Regions from separate parts of the Homo sapiens genome. Here regions 2, 3 and 4 are each linked to region 1. Evidence: fine-mapped expression QTL. A gene starts in region 1. Each other region holds a variant in brackets. All regions are shown on one strand. Distances are between the middles of the regions. Region 1 holds the start of PACRGL (parkin coregulated like). Region 2 has its middle 77 kb from the start of PACRGL. Region 3 overlaps SLIT2 (slit guidance ligand 2). Region 4 overlaps KCNIP4 (potassium voltage-gated channel interacting protein 4).

What was found. PIP is the estimated chance that this variant, and not a neighbour inherited with it, causes the effect.
Region 2: its variant is the best candidate, but not a certain one, in a credible set for the expression of PACRGL in liver (GTEx, PIP 0.79).
Region 3: its variant is the best candidate, but not a certain one, in a credible set for the expression of PACRGL in pancreas (GTEx, PIP 0.53).
Region 4: its variant is the best candidate, but not a certain one, in a credible set for the expression of PACRGL in prefrontal cortex (BrainSeq, PIP 0.60).

What each region holds. Positions count from the first base shown.
Region 1 is chr4:20,698,833-20,702,832 of GRCh38, reverse strand. PACRGL (parkin coregulated like) reads right to left here and starts at 2,375. Exons shown (of 9, transcript NM_001258345.3): 1 at 2,046-2,375. RefSeq lists an enhancer at 2,143-2,262.
Region 2 is chr4:20,620,732-20,625,577 of GRCh38, reverse strand. No RefSeq gene overlaps it. Among named protein-coding and RNA genes, the nearest start is that of PACRGL, 77 kb to the left of the region's middle. The variant G/A (reference allele first, on the strand shown) is at 2,820.
Region 3 is chr4:20,581,835-20,586,680 of GRCh38, reverse strand. All of the region lies in intron 29 of SLIT2 (slit guidance ligand 2), which reads right to left. Among named protein-coding and RNA genes, the nearest start is that of MIR218-1, 56 kb to the right of the region's middle. The variant G/A (reference allele first, on the strand shown) is at 2,421.
Region 4 is chr4:20,742,466-20,747,311 of GRCh38, reverse strand. The region is part of intron 5 of KCNIP4 (potassium voltage-gated channel interacting protein 4); the gene reads left to right. It also overlaps a transcript of PACRGL not described here. Among named protein-coding and RNA genes, the nearest start is that of PACRGL, 44 kb to the right of the region's middle. The variant C/T (reference allele first, on the strand shown) is at 2,485.

The DNA of each region.
Region 1 (4,000 bases):
ATTTTCTAATACTACGGTAATTAAAATCTCATTAAAGTTGTCAGATAATAGTCTAAAATAAGCTGAGAGAAGCTTTAAATATGTTAACCTACTATTGTACTTCTGTGATCATTCAACAAGTATTTAATATTGTGCCTGACTTCTGTTTTGAGAAGCTCCTGGAGGGGGAACAACACAAGTTTCTATTGAAAAAAAAAATGCATCAGTTTCCTCAACTCTATAATTGGGCATAATTACAGGAACTACTTTAAGTGTTGATGAAGACTAGTAAGAATATATGTAAAACAACATTTCCATAATGGGAGGCATGCAGTAAGGGCCACATGAGTCTTAGCTATTATTATAATTTTCTTTACAATGGTACAAAGTGTTCTTCAGTATTACTATTACTAATAGTGAAACCACATGTTTTGTCATTTTTAAAAAATCTGGCTTAACATCTTGGGCTACATCAATTTGAAGACCAGCTGAGGTCCAATTTCTCTTGATCATCAATTGTTAACAGCTGCAACAGATAAAAGCGATGCACAGCAAAGACGCGTACCCACAAACATAACAAGGGCACAGGCAGCCATATCAAATTATGATGCACATTTTTCAATACTACCTACCAATTCAGTGGAAGTTTTGGATGGAATTTTATGGCTAAATTTCTATCTTCCTTCACGTCAAAAAGTTGTTCCTGTAACAAACTAATGGGGAGGTGTTGCATTATATTTTGAATGAGTTCAAAAAGTCACCAAAACTCATTTGAAAAAGTTTTAAACATGGTAGAAAATCGAGCTTCTACAGTTTATGAGTATACAGGACAACTTTTATGTACAATATATAATTTTCAGCATTAAACATACAGTAATGCAAACACGTCTACATCCCCTTTCAAAATCCTGTATTAGAGAATTTCCTTCCAAAACAATTGCTTTTTCACTTAAAATTTTTATCCTTTACCTTAACGACAAATTACAGTTGGCTCTCCGTATATGCGGGTTCCACATCTATAGATTTGACCCAACCACGGATACGGAGAGCAGACTGGAGGACTTTGGCATGGGTGGATTTGGGTATCTGAAAGAGACTGGGGGGAGGGAGGGAGTCCTGGAGCCAATTCTCCACGGACACCAAGGGACGACGGGAAATGTAGTCAATTTTTTAAAATAATATCCACCTGGAAGCATGCCACTGACAAGCCTGGAGCATGAGTTGTTTGTGAAAGCAAGCTTTAAAAATCTTATCCTTGGTAACCCTTTCAAGTGGTTTTTCATTAAATAACATGTAGAGGATGGTGTAAAGGGGCAGTGATGGGGAGAAGCGAACCTGTAAGAACTATTTTGTGTTACAAATATTATCAAGGTCACCGCTCATTCTTTTACAAAACAAGATAAACATTCTAATTATAGATATTAGAATCCATAAATCCACTTAACTTCGAACACCTAAACTATGTCACAATATCAGAAAGCAAACAAACCACCCTATGAAGCCCACACATTCCCCTTAAAGCTTCCTTGGTTGCTACAGGTCATCTATCTACAAGGGACTGCCGGTATCTGTGTCAATGGTAGGAAAGTGTACTTTCTATCATTGTTTGGGCAGCTGATATAGCCTATTTCTTTCCCTGTATGTACTTTCTCCCGTACTCAGCTTTAAGACCACTGAACTAAAACAATTCTCAGTCAGCAGAGCCCTGCTTTCTAATCCAGGTCTAGAAAGTTCCAAACGTGTAAGTAAGAGCCCCACTAAAGAAACCATGTTCCATTTGTAAAGCTCTGTCAAATTCTAAAAGACCCAGAGCCCAATAGTCACTTATCCCAGTCCCTTTTTTACCAGAAAGTAAATTCAAAGGGCCAGTATTAGGGTCGCACAATCTGCTTAGGGGTCTTAGAATCTATTTTCCACCTTCCCAGCCACCCCTCCTACACTCACTTCTAGATACTTAAAGACCAGTCCAGAGCCAGGATGCTATCAAAGTCAGCAAAAGAGGAAGACACAGAAAAAAAATAAAGAAAAAACAGAGATTTTTTAAAGGGGCCGAGGGAGGAGTTTACCAGTTTCAATTAAGGTTAACGAAGGCTACTCTCGACTGACCCTCTACCCCAGGAAAGGAGGGGTACACTCCAAGCGCTCACGATCTCAAGGGTCCTTAGCAACGGGGTCCAGCGGCCCTAGCAACAGATCAGGAAGCAAGCCGGCTTGGCAGAGAGCGCAGACAGGACACCTGTACCCGCGGTTCACGGCTCCGGGGACCCGTTCCTACCGCGCCTCTCTCCCGCCGCGATCCGCACACCAGCTGCCCCCCACCGGGGGGGGCTTATGACCGGCACTCGGTCGGCCAACAACCGCGGCTACCGCCACCGAGCGCCTGCGTTTGGGGAAATGAGGCTCCGCGCGGCCCGCCCCTGAACCTGGTCGCGCCGCGCAATGACGTCAGACGCACGCTGCGTCGTCTAAACCAATGGTAAGAGGTCGCGGAGGCGCCCCAGAAGAGGGTTGCCCAGGCAACCAGGCGCCAGGAGTTCAGGGGGCAGCTCACGCACTGCAGGCGCTGTCTCTGGCGACAAAGGGGCACGTGGTGGAGGATGTTTTTCGAATAAGAGGTCCGGAGAGCAGAGGGACGATGACGGGTTCCCAGTCGCCTGCGCCCTAGCCTCTCTTCAGTCCATGTGCTTAACTCCTAAACGCTTTTCTCGCACACTTAATACTCATTGTTCCTCAGCTATCTTACCCTCAATACTCGGAGAACTGAAGACTGTGAACTCCTCCCCCCGAGTCTTCAGGGGTGAGAGCCGAAGCCATCTGCATGCCCAGCTGTGGGATTTTCTTGTAGTTTCCTGTTCTATCTGGCTAAATCATAAGCCTAGCTGTGGAAATTCGTTTCCTGTCGTATTTTATGAATCTCATATGCTATTGCATTCTTCACAGTATATCCGCATTTAAATAGTAAAAAGCACGATTTTGTGCTCTACATTATTTTTAATAGTAAAAATATTTAATAGTGAAAAGCACGATTTTATGCTCCACATCATAACAAAACTGATGCTGCAGGAAAATGCATATTCCCTTGTATTGCATTCCACCAGCAACAATTTGGGTTGTCATAGTTAAGTCCAAGCCCTTTGGACCTGTCCACTGCACTCCTCTTTAGCATCCTCTACTGTTGCCAACCCAAAGCCCTAACTTTTTGCTTAGGTAACACTAAATTGGCATTGTCTGAGCACTCGAGGCTGTGTAATCCTTCTGTGCTCCTGTAGCTCCATCCTTGCTACTTGACCAGCACCCCAGAAGCATCTTCATTAGATTGTGAGTTTCCTCAGGATAAGGATTTTAACTTTGCCCTTTTTATTTCTCCAGCTTCAAGCATAATGCAGTGGGTATTCAACTAATGTCTTCTGAATGAATAAAATGAATTAATAAATTCTGTCTATGTCTAATTTCTCTAATGTTCTGTGAACCTTGCATACAAATCTAAGTTTTAAAATTTATTATAATGTATTTACCTATCTTTCTCACTAGACTGAAATTGTCTTTATTGCTTTTCTATCCCCAATGCCTAGCGCAATGCATGCTTAACTAACGTTTTTAAAAGGAAAAAGAAATTTTTAAAAAAAAAAATCTTATATCCTGTATCTTCAGCTACTTTTACTTTATAATCTCTCATCTCCAGCTTCCTCAAGACTTATTATATTTTCCTTACTCCTAGCATCTCCAGTGTCAGACTCAGTAGAGCTCCTAGTTCGTGACCTTTTAACCCCTCCTCCCTGGACTATAAGAATGATTTGTATTCAGTATCGCAGAGGAATGACAAGCATATGTGTTCTGGAGTTAAGCTATCTAAAACTCACCACCCCTTATCAGCTATGAGTCCTTGTGGATGACGACTCCTACAAGCCTCAATTTCCTCTTCATTATTGGGTTATTGCGAGACTTAAATTTAAGAGGACAATTGAATACCTGACACATAGGAAGTACTCAATAAGTATTAGCTAGTGCAATTATTCAGGTG
Region 2 (4,846 bases), 78 kb after region 1:
TTCTAAAATATGGAAGCATTTACAAGAAAAGGGAAAAAAGGAAAACAAGTTTAAATGAGGAAACAGAGATATAATGATTTCTACTTCCTTTACTGAACTGTTAGACCAGCAGGTGCTTTTTTGCCAAATGATAAGTGATTTATTTCCCAATCAAACAGGGTATTGTACGTGTCATTCAGAAATGTGTTCCTGCTCATTCAGAGCTCTGAAAAAGAGTTGACAAACATCAGAGGAGAATTGTGGCTAACGCAGAAATAATAGGAAGAAAAAAATCAATGTAGAGATGTAATTGAAGGTAAGATGTAATTGAAAGTGGTAGAGGTAATTGAATGGTAATATTGTGAGCAGAGAGCAAGCAGGATCAAGCAAGTGCAAGATTAGGCAATTCAAAGATGTTCATCTTTCTCCTTTCTGAGATAACACAGGCCCCTGAGATTATGGTTAAGGGACATTATCAAACATGCTCATTCAAATAGAAATTCCTCTATAGCTTTTTTTTTTTTTATCTTTGTCTCTTTTTTCCTTACAAAGAATATCTGTGAGCTGGATTGAGTCCAAGAATGTGACTTTGCAGCTGATATAACTGGACTACGGCATGTTTGGTCCTGTCCTTGTGACTATCTTAGCAATGGAATTCAATTGCTCCAGGTCAGCCCACTCAATCAAGGCATATCTGACCAGAAAAATGACCAAAAATACTGAAGCAACCATGTACATTCCCATCCCTCCGTTTTCATTTTTTGGAAGCAAATTTCACTAAAAAGCACTATTTATTTTCCTTTACCCAGTGGGAGATATTTAAAAAATGCATTTTTATTGGGAAAGTGAGTGCTATTCATGGGCATTTTTTCAAACCAAAATAACTCCCCTTGAGAAATACTTACTCCTCCAGCATTATCTCACGGGGTTGTTGATAGAGTTTGCCTTTCAATTCCAGTGAAATCAATATTGCATTATGGCTGGAGTCAGGAGACCTGGATTGTGCGACCTTGGGCAAGTCACTTAATCTCTCTGCAACCATCTATGTGAAAAAAACAATGAAAATAATTCTAGCCACTTCAAGAAGGGAGAGTTAGATTAATCATAGCAGATTTTCTAGACAATCGTCTCTGTGGCTGTTTCTTACACTCCCTGTTTTCTTGTGTGTGCTTTTTAATTTTTGATTCTCTTTTGAATCTAAATTCAGCTGGCCACTTATTGACACAATGACAAAGCTAATTCCCAATGCCGATGGTGATGCCTCTGCTCAGCTGAATTTAATATCTCTGGACAAAGCCCTTGAAATGCTGTATCCCCTTTGTGAGGGGAAGAGGAGGAAGGCAATGGAGAACTCCATTTGGTAAAGAATTCTTGCATATACATTGCTCTCTTCACTCTGAGTGATTTTGTGACTTCTTACTCTCAGGCATCCTGTTTCCTCAACCTCACTGTATCTGGCTTCTGCTTTTTACATCCACTGATCAACAAGCTTATGTAAGGGATGACTTAGGTTGGTCTTGCTCTTCCAGCCTGGTTCTCAGGATGGTCCCCAGAGTATACCTCAAGTGCTTGCCCCACTTCTTTACAAGCTGTTACTATAGGTGATAAACCAATACTTATTGATTCATTGAATGACAACCCTGTGACCTCACCAACTTTTCCAGCTGCCATTCCCTCTTCTTCTTTTGTTATCAGACTTATTAAGAGAACAGTCTATTATTCCTTACCCACGACTAGCCAGTGACTACCTCATTGCTTTCTTTCTTTCTTCCCCTTTCTTTCTCTCTATTCTGGGACTGCTTCATTCCAGAAATGGATCATCTAAAGTGGGGTTAGTTTTCTGGTTAAGTTCATTCTGTTGTGTTTCTAATTTAGCTTGCCCGTTTTCTTAGCTTCAACTACCACCTGTATGTGGATGAATCTCATATCCACAAGGTGGCCATTCCAGCCCAGAAATTGCTTTCCAATATCCCTCCCTAGCATTTGTCAATCTAAGAGCACATACTGAAGGCCGATTTGAGACCACTATGTGAGTAATCTGGAATACCAAACTAAAGAGTTTGGATTTTATCTTACAGTGGGAGTTAGAGATATGTTTTCAAATAATCTAGAGGAATACATTGTTTTCACTCAACAGAGCAGAGGGTGGGTTGGAGGTCAGAAGGCTAGGGTTTCCCAGCCCAATGCAGTCACCATGATGTCACTAAAACTCAGATTTTAATTGACACCTAATGAACAGATATTTTCTGCTACGTTTCCAGTTGATTCATTTCCCAAGTCTCTGGTCTTGGTATGAACAGGGCAGGAAAAATGCACATGAGATTCAAAGCATGCATTGGCCAGCGGTTGTTTTTTTTCAATCCAGCTTTATCAGCCCTCAGTTCATGAATATTCACTACTATTCTTAATTTTCAGTGCTACTTCAAGTATTTCTATTTTCCATATCCTCAGAGATATTTCATTTGGAAGTTTAGAGGAGCTACATTAGGCACAGCCAAATAGCTGCTATTTTAAAATGGAAATCCCTTCTTGTTGATGTTTTGAGACCTCACTGCAAACAGATGCTCAGAAGAAAAATATGGACTATATGGTGAATTAAGAAATCCTGAAAATGGTCACTGTTGTGTTACACACAAGAAGCAATTGTATACCTCACAGCAGCCACACTAAGTTCTTTTGTTTCCTTGACCACATGAGTTATTTTCCTCCTCTGGCCTACACACAGGCTGCTCTCTCTGCGTGAACTCCCAACCCCTATCCTTACACAAGCTTCCATCTGCCTCCATCCTAGACTCTATTTGATCCTTCATGACTTGGTTTAAATGTCACTTCCTCAGAGA[G/A]GCATTCCCAAACCTCCTTACACTTATTTGATTGGATTCCTCTGCTATTCTTTCTTCTAATATCACATAACTTCCTTCAGGATGCTTATCACAATCTGGAATTATGTATCAGTGTGACCATTTGTATAATATCTATTATCCACTTCAACTTCAACCCCAACTGCATAGAGTGTAAGCTCTAAAATGGCTGAAGTGATGTCTGTTTCATGTGAAACTGTATATCAAAAGTTTAGTGTAGCTTCTTGCACATGATAGGAGATAGGAAATATAGATGTGTTGTTAACTGATTTTTGAATACATAGGAATAAAAATGAAGATAAGTATGTAAAACTTTGTATGAAGCTTCCTATCCTTGTATAGCTTCCTTTCTTGTGAATGTTATTTTTGAAATAATGGTCACTCCATGAGGTAGATGACACCATAAAGCTTGAGGTCTTTAAGGACTGAATCAATTTCAACAGTCTTTTGATCATTTCTCCAGAAAGAATTGCTGCTGACAAAGCAAATCACCCAAAAAAGAAAACTCTCAGAGCAATTTAAAAATAGGGGTTCATCTATATTGCTTAGAAATAATTTCAGAAAATCTGTAGTGAAAACAAATTCCAAAGATGACTGAGATGGTTGTTATTCAATGAACACATTTTAAATCAAACACATGTCAGACCCCTATGGCATTTCCTGATGGTGCCTCATTCATGTGAGAATTTAAATTAAAATACATTAGAGATGTTTAGCCACTTTATCATTTCATATTACAATGCACATTATTCCATGTATAGCTTTGATTCTAAAATGCATGATTTTTTTTTTGTTTTTAATGCATAGAGTTCTGTTGGATATGCTCTGGAATAGTTTCCTATTTAAAGTAATCCTATTGGCAAGACCTTCTAAGTAAGGAACCTTTTATAATATGAATAATTACCCTAAATTTATCTTGTTTGTTAGTAATTACTTGGCTATTGGATTTATTTTTAAAGGGTGCATGCACAGGAGACAGTGACATCTCAAGGCAAACAATCCCCTAAGAAACTTGCTAATTCAGCTCATATCTCAGACAGCCGTCATTTTATTTTGTGTCTTTATAAGCAGGAAGGAGAAAAAACACAGTCTGGAAGCTATGAAGGTTTCACTTTTGTTTTCCTTAAAAAATGAAATAGCAAATGTAAAGTCTCTAGTCTGGATTACTTAAAACTACATAATCAAGAAGGAAAAATTATTGGGCTGTGGAATAAGGCTCCAAGGCTTGAAAGTCCCCAAGTAGAGGTAGTAGTTACTAAGCTGTTGCCCTAATTACAGACAATGTGGTCTGGAACACCTGACTGAGGTGGATCCAGCTCCTCTGTTTATGAGCCCTGTATGCATGTATAAAGCAGAAAGTGCAATAATCTCATGGTTTTATATACATTAATGAGATATTTCATAGAAAACCCTGAGCATAGTACCTGGCATATAAGAAGCACTCAAAAAACAGTGGCTATATGGATAATACATGTCTGTAAACACAAATCTAAATCACGTCATCGTCACAGATGTTTCTTTGTTTAATGAATGATTTAAACCCCTTGGAAAAAAGAAGTAATCAATGGGAATAAATAATTTACAATAGCTATACAATTGTCTCTATAATTACAATTTAGACATTTTAAACAAGAATGAATAAATAGTTGGATGTCTGTGTCTGTGAGAGAGACCGAGTGTGTATGTGTGTGTGTGTGTGCATGGTTTTTTGTTTGTTTGTTTGTTTACAGGGAAACAAAGACAAAATCTTATCATGGTTGATGAGGATTATTCCTCCCAGACAATGTTGTTTCTCTGTCCTGGATAGTACACCTTCATGTTACCAACCCTGGCCTAAGAGTGGCTGTCTTTTATTGTTTTCTACCTGGTTCTATTGGGGAGGGAGAAACAAAGAAGAACAAAAACAAAAACATTTCATCTTAGATAGACTTCATCTTACAATTTTTTTGAAAAAAATAATTGAATATCTTTTTTCAGGCAAATAGTATGTTTTTATATCCATCTCTCTT
Region 3 (4,846 bases), 120 kb after region 1:
ATTTGTTTATGTACTTAATGAGCATTTATATCATGCTTACTACTGTATGCTAAACAGTTTTAAACACTGTATAAATATGCAGTCACTTAATATTCATTACAAGCATATAAGGTAAGGTTTTAGGGTTGCACTGTTATGTGTGCATTTTATATTACTGGTGTTTATCTGACTCTCTTTTCTCGACTGTAAAATCACTAAGAGTAGAATTCTTGCCACATTTGCTTTTGTGTTTTTTCCAGAGTGTGGTATGCTGACATACTCAAATAATAGTCATTAAAAGGAGGAATCATGCTTTTTAAGGCAAGAGCTCTATCTTGTTGACCTGTAATCAACTCAGATTTCATTCTAGCCTTTAGAGATTAGTGTAATTTTTTGCTTAATTACTCACTCATGATTAGTAATAACATAGCTTATGCTATTCTCTTTAAACATTACTGTGAATTTTCCCTGACTAAATATTAACATGAATGTTTTCATTGGACTGTTTCTTTAATTTTCCTTAATTATATTGGATTCTGCTATACTTGAGGGAAGGACCGCTTTCAAAAGAGTGCAACAGTGGCGAGATTCAGGAGCTCAATATAAGAAGGGAAACTTAGCAAGCTCCTTAGATGAATACTGGCCTGCATGTCTACTTCTCAACCAGTAAGAGGAAATTAGACAGCTAAAAGCTGCACTGGTTTTCCAGGAAGAATAGAGATAAAATGACTAACATTAGTCAGCTAATGTATTTTTAGTTACCAATATTGAAAAGTTCCCCCAAACCTCATAGTATTGTGAGGACATGATGCCATTTTTACTTGGTTTTTATTTTAAGTGTAGTCAGAGCTAGTACTGAGTTAGTGGAAAAATAATAAAAAATAGGGGAATTGAGTTTGCTTTTGTGATGGCTCAGGTCCTGAGATAATATTATCAATGGCTGCCTCCCTTTCAGAGATGATAAAGTGTGAGGTGACAGAAAGGAAAACTGGAAATATTCTTTATTCGACTATACAGAGTTAGTGTTGTAAATGATTACCCTATAAGCAGGTCTTAATACGTTTAAACTGACATCAAGAAAGATAAGTCAATCCATTGGAGTGGTTTGGGGCAATGTGGTTGAATATAGGTTAAATGTTGGTGTCTATGAGCCTCTCAAGAGATAGGAGCCTAGGCAAGCCTTGACTCCATGATCTGGCTTCAACCCATTCCTCTAAATCCCAGGAAATCCTATTTATTTATTTTCAGCCATGGGCCCTTAAAATTTCCCAATAGTGTGGAACACAGTCATTGCCTGGCATTTGTGATTTCACTTTTGATCAGATGAGCAAATTAATTTTCCTTATGATTCTAGTTTTCATCTCTTGTTGATAAGAGGTTGAAGCATTCTGAGTGTACGTATATATGTTGGTTGTGTATGTTTTGGCGAGAAAACAAAGAGTGGTCCATCAAGGGGTCTATGGTTACCTCTTCAGGATAAGAGAGGTTAGTAAATGATCTACTGTAACTGGTAATAAATATTGCTGGTAACCAATATCTGCGAATGCCAGAACTTTCTTAAGAAAAAGTGCTACATGTTGTAAACAGAGGAATCTTTTTGACATAGAGGTTGTTTTTTTTTGTTGTTTTTTGTTTTTTGTTTTTTTTGAGATAGAGTCTTGCTCTGTCAGTCAGGCTGGAGTGCAGTGTCGTGATCTTGGCTCACTGTAACCTCTGCCTCCCAGGCTCAAGTGATTCTCCTGCCTCAGCCTCCTGAGTAGCTGGGATTACAGGCACATGCCACCATGCCCAGCTAATTTTTGTATTTTAAGTAGAGACGGGGTTTCACCATGTTGGGCATGCTGGTCTCAAACTCCTGACCTCAACTGATCCTCCCACCTTGGCCTCCCAAAGTGCTGGGATTACAGGTATAGAGTTTTATCTGTTTCTTAGATCACCTCTTCCTGATTTTGTCTGTCGGTTATATATGGGACACAACAGGACAAGAAATGACCAAGTTCTACAGTAACACTATTACAACTTGTGAAAGAGCATGCCAAAAGTGATACCCACTCTTCTAAATGGGAATGATTTTTCAGACTCACTCTTGAAGGGGAGATAAAATGCTACTTACTGAATATCTGTGAATGTGTTTCTTCTGAAAAATTTCATGGAGTGGTAATGTGCCCATTCATTCTTGCTTGTACAACCGTCCTGGTTTATACCCGTTGTCCCAACGTAATTGTCAATAGTGTGCCTGGGCACTCACATAACTACCCTGATTTGGATGATAAATGTTATGGGTCACCTTCTAGGTGGAACAGTAAAAAGCTGGATCATCAGAGTTGATAATACTCTGGAGTGAAGAGTGAATCAGCATAAAGAGACCTCAGGAAGTAACTGTTCTTATTGGGGAAAATGACATTTGGTTAGTTGTATTATTGTCTAGGATGGCCTTCTAC[G/A]GTTGTATGCAATATACGAGAGTTGACTGGTTGCAGAACTATTTTATTGTTCTCAGCCTCAGTTCTTCATCAGTAAACTGAGGCTCTGGAATTAGAGATGTGTAAGGTTAACTGTGGCTCTAAAAAAATCCCTTTTTTTCAATAAAAAGGAAAATGCTTCTGAAGATATGGATCATGCAGACAGCAAGTTACCAGAGGGAGTATCACACTTAGCTGTACAAAATAACATTACTTCATTCAGCGGTAAAAATAAAGTGCCAGCATATGTTCAGAGCCCCCTGTGGTACTGATATTGTGAGTATTATTGCACTGAGGAAGAAACCTCAATGCACTTTGATGGTTTTTATGAGAAATAATACCTGGAGTTTGGCCTTACCTTCTGCTTCATTTTAGATCTATGAACCTAACTTTTTTATTTTTATTTTATTTTTATTATTATTATTATTATTTTTGTGATGGAGTCTCATTCTGTCGCCCAGGCTGGAGTGCAGTGGCATGATCTTGGCTCACTGCAACCTCTGCCTCCTGGGTTCAAACGATTCTCCTGTCTCAGCCTCCCCAGTAGCTGGGACTACAGGTGCGCACCACCATGCCCAGCTAAATTTTGTACTTTTAGTAGAGATGAGGTGTCACCATGTTGGCCAGGATGGTCTCATCTCTTGACCCTGTGATCCACCCACCTCAGCCTCCCAAAGTCTTGGGATTACAGGCGTGAGCCACTGTGCCCGGCCTGAACCTAACTGTTTTTAATGCTCCTTCCTTGTTTAACACAAAGGGGCCCTTCCTATTGCCTTCATTTCTACTTCCTTCCTAGTATCTTGTTATCTTTGTGTTTAAATTTGTTACCATACTTACTGAAATAGTTTTAGAACTATTCTACAAAGCTCTTCCCTGATACTTACAGAATGATCTGCCTATAGCTTTTTCAAATAATTAAAACAGCAAATCAGATTTTTAACATCACCATATATTTTGAGTCCCAACTATGAATGGGGACCTCTACCAATGCTAGAAGTATAATGGTAAACAACAACAACAACAACAACAAACTATTCCTATTTCCACAGAGTTTATGTATGAGAGGAGGAGGAGAAAGATATTAATTCAGTAATTTCCCAAGTAAAGTAGTCCCCCTTTATCGGCAGTTTTGTTTTCTGTGGTTTCAGTTCCCCACTGTTAACAGCGGCCAAAACATATTAAATGGAAAATTCCAGAAATAAACAATTCGTAAGTCTTGAATTGCATGAGTTCTGAGTAGCTTGGTGAAATCTTGTTCCATTCTGCTCCATCACACCCAGCACGTAAATTATCTCTATCCAGGGTATCTGGCTGAAGAAGCCTCCTGCCCATCAGTCACTTATGAGCCATCTCAGTTATCAAATCTGTTGTCGTGGTATCACAGTCATCCTGTTCAAGGAAACCTTATTTTACTTAATAATGGCCCCAAAGTGCAAGAGTAGTGATGTTGGTAATTTGGACAAGCCCAAGAGAAACTGTCAAGTGCTTCCTTTAAGTGAAAAGGTAAAAGTTCTTAACTTAATAAGGAAAGAGAGAAAAATTGTACACTGAGGATGCTAAGATCTACCGCAAAAATGAATCTCCTATCTCTGCAAAGTTGTGAACAAGGGAAAAAGAAATTCATACTAGTTTTGCTGTCATACCTCAAACTGCAAAAGTTACAGCCACCATGCATGCTAAGGGCTTACTTGGGATGAAGAGGGATTCAGTGTGTGGGTTGAAAGACATGAACAGAAACATGTTCTGATTGATAGCAACTGGCTTCAGTACTATTTGTGGTTTCAGGCATCTACTGAGGGTCTTGGAACGTATCACCCGCAGATAACGAGGGGACTACTATATGCATAAAATTGCCTCTGTGCTGAATGCTAAGCAGGAACATTTTATGGGGCCCTAGAAAGGGACTGTTTCCTCTGAAGAAGGACAGGAGAGATTCTTCTGAAGAGGTGAGACTCAGAGGCAAGGGTGAAGTGGAGAATGAAGAGCTCTGACAGAGGCTTCTGCAGGAGGCAGCATGAAGAACAGGAGCCCTAAGAGATGGGGAGTGAGCCCGGGAAAACATGGTGCCAGAGGAGCCCCAGAGGCTGGCTGGGCCACAGGGTCGAAGGTCTTCATTCTATGAATAATAGGCTCCCACTGAAAGGTTTTGAGTCGGGGCATGGCCAGATGACATCTGCACTTTGAAAAGAGCACTCTGGCTGGGCACAGTGGCTCACGCCTGTAATCCCAGCACTTTGGGAGGCCAAGGCGAGCAGATCACCTGAGGTCAGGAGTTTGAGACAAGCCTGGCCAAGATGGTGAAACCCCGTCTCTACTAAAAATACAAAAATTAGCCAGGTGTGGTAGTGGGTGCCTATAATCCCAGCTCTTTGGAAGGCTGAGACAGGAGAATTGCTTGAACCCGGGAG
Region 4 (4,846 bases), 44 kb before region 1:
TGAGTAAGGCAAAAACTATTAGTGACTCCATTACTTGAAATTACTTATGTGTCAGAAATATACCACCAATTTCCTAGGGCACATTATATCCAATTTTATATGTAAATTTAGTATGGTGTTAATGATATGGAACCATGCATAACATTGCTTTTATAATATTTATGTAAAATACCAGTAATTGCAATGAACGTTGATTATAATTTGGGAAATTAGTTGTAATGATTATATATGATATGCATGTTGGTAAAATGCCTTTCCTTTTAAATGAAAACTAATGGCTAAATTAATAAAGTTTGAATGAAAATCAAATTTAAAACTAGGCTGTTGCAGTTACTTTTCTAAATTGATTAGCTACCTGGGAAATCTCTAGAAAATAGAAATGGTTAGGGAATGAACACATTTTGAATAATAGCAATAGCATACTGAGAGGTACAGTAGAGAGACCATCTGATTCTACGATAAAGGGTAATGGGAGTTTTCCACTTAATTTGCTTAAACCTGAAAGGCAGAAGAAATATGATAGGAGGGGCCCTGGATTTGGTATGATGGGATCTAATCTCCATTTTGCCACCCAGCGGCTCTGAGACCCTAGGCTGAGTACTTAACCTTCTTAACCTTAGCATTCATACTGCTAAAACATCAGCAATCAAAGCTACTTAATAAGATAATGTAAAAATGAAAAAGTCATAATGTCAGTAAAGGGCTTGGCTCTGTGTCTGGCACCAAATATGTGCTCAGTAGTTATTAGATGTTAACTATAGCAGTTATCAGTTGGGGGATTTTTTTTTTAATTATACTTTAAGTTCTGGGATACATGTGCAGAGTGTGCATTTTTGTCACATAGGTATACACGTGCCATGGTGGTTTGCTGCACCCATCAACTCATCACCTACATTAGGTATTTCTGCTAATATTATCCCTCCCCTAGCCCCCCACCCTCCGACATGCCCTGGTGTGTGATGTTCCCCTTCCTATGTCCGTGTGTTCTCATTGTTCAATTCCCAGCTATGAGTGAGAACATGCAATGTTTGGTTTACTGTTCTCATGATAGTTTGCTGAGAATGACGGTTTCCAGCTTCATTCCCCACAAAGGACATGAACTCATCCTTTTTTATGGCTGCATAGTATTCCATGGTGTATATGTGCCACGTTTTCTTTATCCAGTGTATTATTGATGGACATTTGGGTTGGTTCCAAGTCTTTGCTATTGTGAATAGTGCTGCAATACATATACATGTGTATGTGTCTTTATAGTAGAATGATTTATAATCCTTTAGGTATATACCCAGTAATGGGATGGCTGTGTCAAATGGTATTTCTAGTTCTAGATCCTTGAGGAATCGCCACAGTCTTCCACAATGGTTGAACTAATTTACACTAGTTGGGGGAATTTTTCTAACAAAGCCAGTTAATAATGACATTGGTCATCTCATTACCCAGTAAGGCAACTACATGCAAATGCATCATTCTAAGCCATAGCAGTCTTTGATTGGCAGGGAGTCAGGGGAGTCAGGAGGATTGTCCCCAGCATAGTGGCCAGCACTGAGGCACTCATTAAAGGTTTGGCAGATGAACAGAATCCACAACTGAACAAGTCTAGGCTATTATAAAGTCAAATCTCTATGTCTTTCTCCTTTTGCCTTGATAATAAGAGAATGGAAACCAGAATTCGGTACAGACCTCTCCACCCCTTTATCATTTTTTGTACTTTAGGGAACAGATATAACCTCCTTTCACATTTACAAGTAAAGTAATTGTGCAAAGTACTCATTGAGAGTTGTTGTTAAGTTTGTCACTTCCTACTTGAGACTTCAATTACAACTCAGAAAAGCACGGAGCAAAAGTCTTATAAGCCACATTAAGTTTCTCATTTTTCTTTTGCACGAAAAGATATCATTCCTGTTTTGAGTAACTCTTTACTGATATCATCCCACAGGATAAAAAGAGAGAGGTGCTCTAAGACCATAGCTATCTTTTAATGTAAATTGTTTCAGGATATACAGTATTCAAGAAGATGTGAATTAGATGTCACCATGTGAATCAGGATACTTTTGTTCACAAATACTAGAAAAGGATACACCAAGTGACAAAAAAAAATGGTAATTTCATTGGTTCACAGCAACAAAAAGGCCAGAGATGGGGCTGGCTACAACCTAAGGGTGGGACCCTGTAGGGCTGCAAGAAGAGGCCAAAGCTCCTTGGCTCCATGATTCATTGCTCCTGTTGAGCAAGGAAAGAAGCACATCTCTGTCCTACCATTCCTAGCAAGAGTCTGAGTCTGGGGAGTCATTCTTAGACCTGGACTAGGTTTAGTCAAATGGCAACCACAAATCCAGTTGTCCGGCCAAAGGGATAAAATGTGCTTCCTGACTTCGCCCAGGTCATGGCTCTATCACTAGACTCAGAGATGAAGTGAACTTCCACAGAACATCATGGAGCACCAAATGGAAATTTGGGACCTACTAGGGCTAGGGAGGCAAACAA[C/T]ACAAGTCCACACTTGACTTAAACGTGCTATCTTTATTTTTATTTTATATTTTTATTATTATTATTCTTTAAGTTCTAGGGTACATGTGCAAAATGTGCAGGTTTGTTACATATGTATACATGTGCCATGTTGGTGTGCTGCACCCATTAACACGTCATTTACATTATTTATTTCTCCTAATGCTATCCCTCCCCCATCCCCCTGACCCCTCATCAGGCCCCCGTGTGTGATGTTCTCCATCCTATGTCCAAGTGTTCTCATTTTTCAATTCCCACCTATGAGTGAGAACATGCGGTGTTTGGTTTTCTGTCCTTGCGATAGTTTGCTGAGAGTGATGGTTTCCAGCTTCATCCATGTCCCTACAAAGGACATGAACTCATCCTTTTTATGGCTGTATAGTGCCATATTTTCTTAATCCAGTATATGTGCCACATTTTCTTAATCCAGTCTATCATTGATGGACATTTGGGTTGGTACCAAGTCTTTGCTACTGTGAATAGTGCCGCAATAAACATACATGTGCATGTGTCTTTAAAGCAGCATGATTTATAATCCTTTGGGTGTATACCCAGTAATGGGATTGCTGGGTCAAATGGTATTTCTAGTTCTAGCTCCTTGAGGAGTCACCAGTCTTCCACAATGGTTGAACTAGTTTACAGTCCCACCAACAGTGCAAAAGTGTTCCTATTTCTCCACATCCTCTCCAGCATCTGTTGTTTCCTGACTTCTTAATGATTGTCATTCTAACTGGTGTGAGATGGTATCTCATTGTGGTTTTGATTTGCATTTCTCTGATGGCCAGTGATGATGAGCATTTTTTCATGTGTCTGGTGGCTGCATAAATGTCTTCTTTTGAGAAGAGTCTGTTCATATCCTTTGCCCACTTTTTGAAGGGTTTTTTTTTTTCTTGTAAATTTAATTTCTTTGTAGATTCTGGATATTAGCCCTTTGTCAGATGAGTAGGTTGCGAAAATTTTCTCCCATTTTGTAGGTTGCCTGTTCACTCTGATGGTAGTTTCTTTTGCTGTGCAGAAGTTCCTTAGTTTAATTAGATCCCATTTGTCAATTTTGGCTTTTGTTGCCATTGCTTTTGGTGTTTTAGACATGAAGTCCTTGCCCATGCCTATGTCCTGAATGGTATTGCCTAGGTTTTCTTCTAGGGTTTTTATGGTTTTAGGTCTAATGTTTAAGTCTTTAATCCATCTTGAATTAATTTTTGTATAAAGTGTAAGGAAGGGATCCAGTTTCAGCTTTCTACATATGGCTAGCCAGTTTTCCCAGCACCATTTATTAAATAGGGAATCCTTTCCCCATTGCTTGTTTCTGTCAGGTTTGTCAAAGATCAGATGGTTGTAGATGTGTGGTATTATTTCCGAGGGCTCTGTTCTGTTCCATTGGTCTATATCTCTGTTTTGGTACCAGTACCATGCTGTTTTGGTTACTGTAGCCTTGTAGTATAGTTTGAAGTCAGGCAGCATGATGTCTCCAGCTTTGTTCTTTTGGCTTAGGATTGACTTGGCAATGTGGGCTCTGTTTTGGTTCCATATGAACTTTAAAGTAGTTTTTTCCAATTTTGTGAAGAAAGTCATTGGTAGCTTGATGGGGATGGCACTGAATCTATAAATTACACCTTGGGCAGTATGGCCATGTTCACGATATGGATTCTTCCTATCCATGAACATGGAATGTTCTTCCATTTGTTTGTGTCCTCTTTTATTTCATTGAGCAGTGGTTCGTAGTTCACATAAGGGTGAACTTATAAGGGTCCTTCACACCCTTATAAGGGTCCTTCACACCCTTATAAGGGTCCTTCACATCCCATATAAGTTGGATTCCTAGGTATTTTATTATCTTTGAAGCAATTGTGAATGGGAGTTCACTCATGATTTGGCTCTGTTTGTCTATTATTGGTGTATAGGAATGCCTGTGATTTTTGCACATTGATTTTTGTACCCTGAGACTTCGCTTAAGTTGCTTATCAGTTTAAGGAGATTTTGGGCTGAGACGACAGGGTTTTCTAAATATACAATCATGTCATCCGCAAACAGGGAAAATTTGACTTCTTCTTTCCCTAATTGAATACCCTTTATTTCCTTCTCCTGCCTGATTGCCCTGGCCAGAACTTCCAACACTATGTTGAATAGGAGTGGTGAGAGAGGGCATCCCTGTCTTGTGCCAGTTTTCAAAGGGAATGAGTCCAGTTTTTGCCCATTCAGTATGATATTGGCTGTGGGTTTGCCATAAATAGCTCTTATTTTGAGATACGTCCCATTAATACCTAGTTTATTGAGAGTTTTTAGCATGAAGGGCTGCTGAATATTGTCAAAGGCCTCTTCTGTGTCTGTTGAGATAATCATGTGG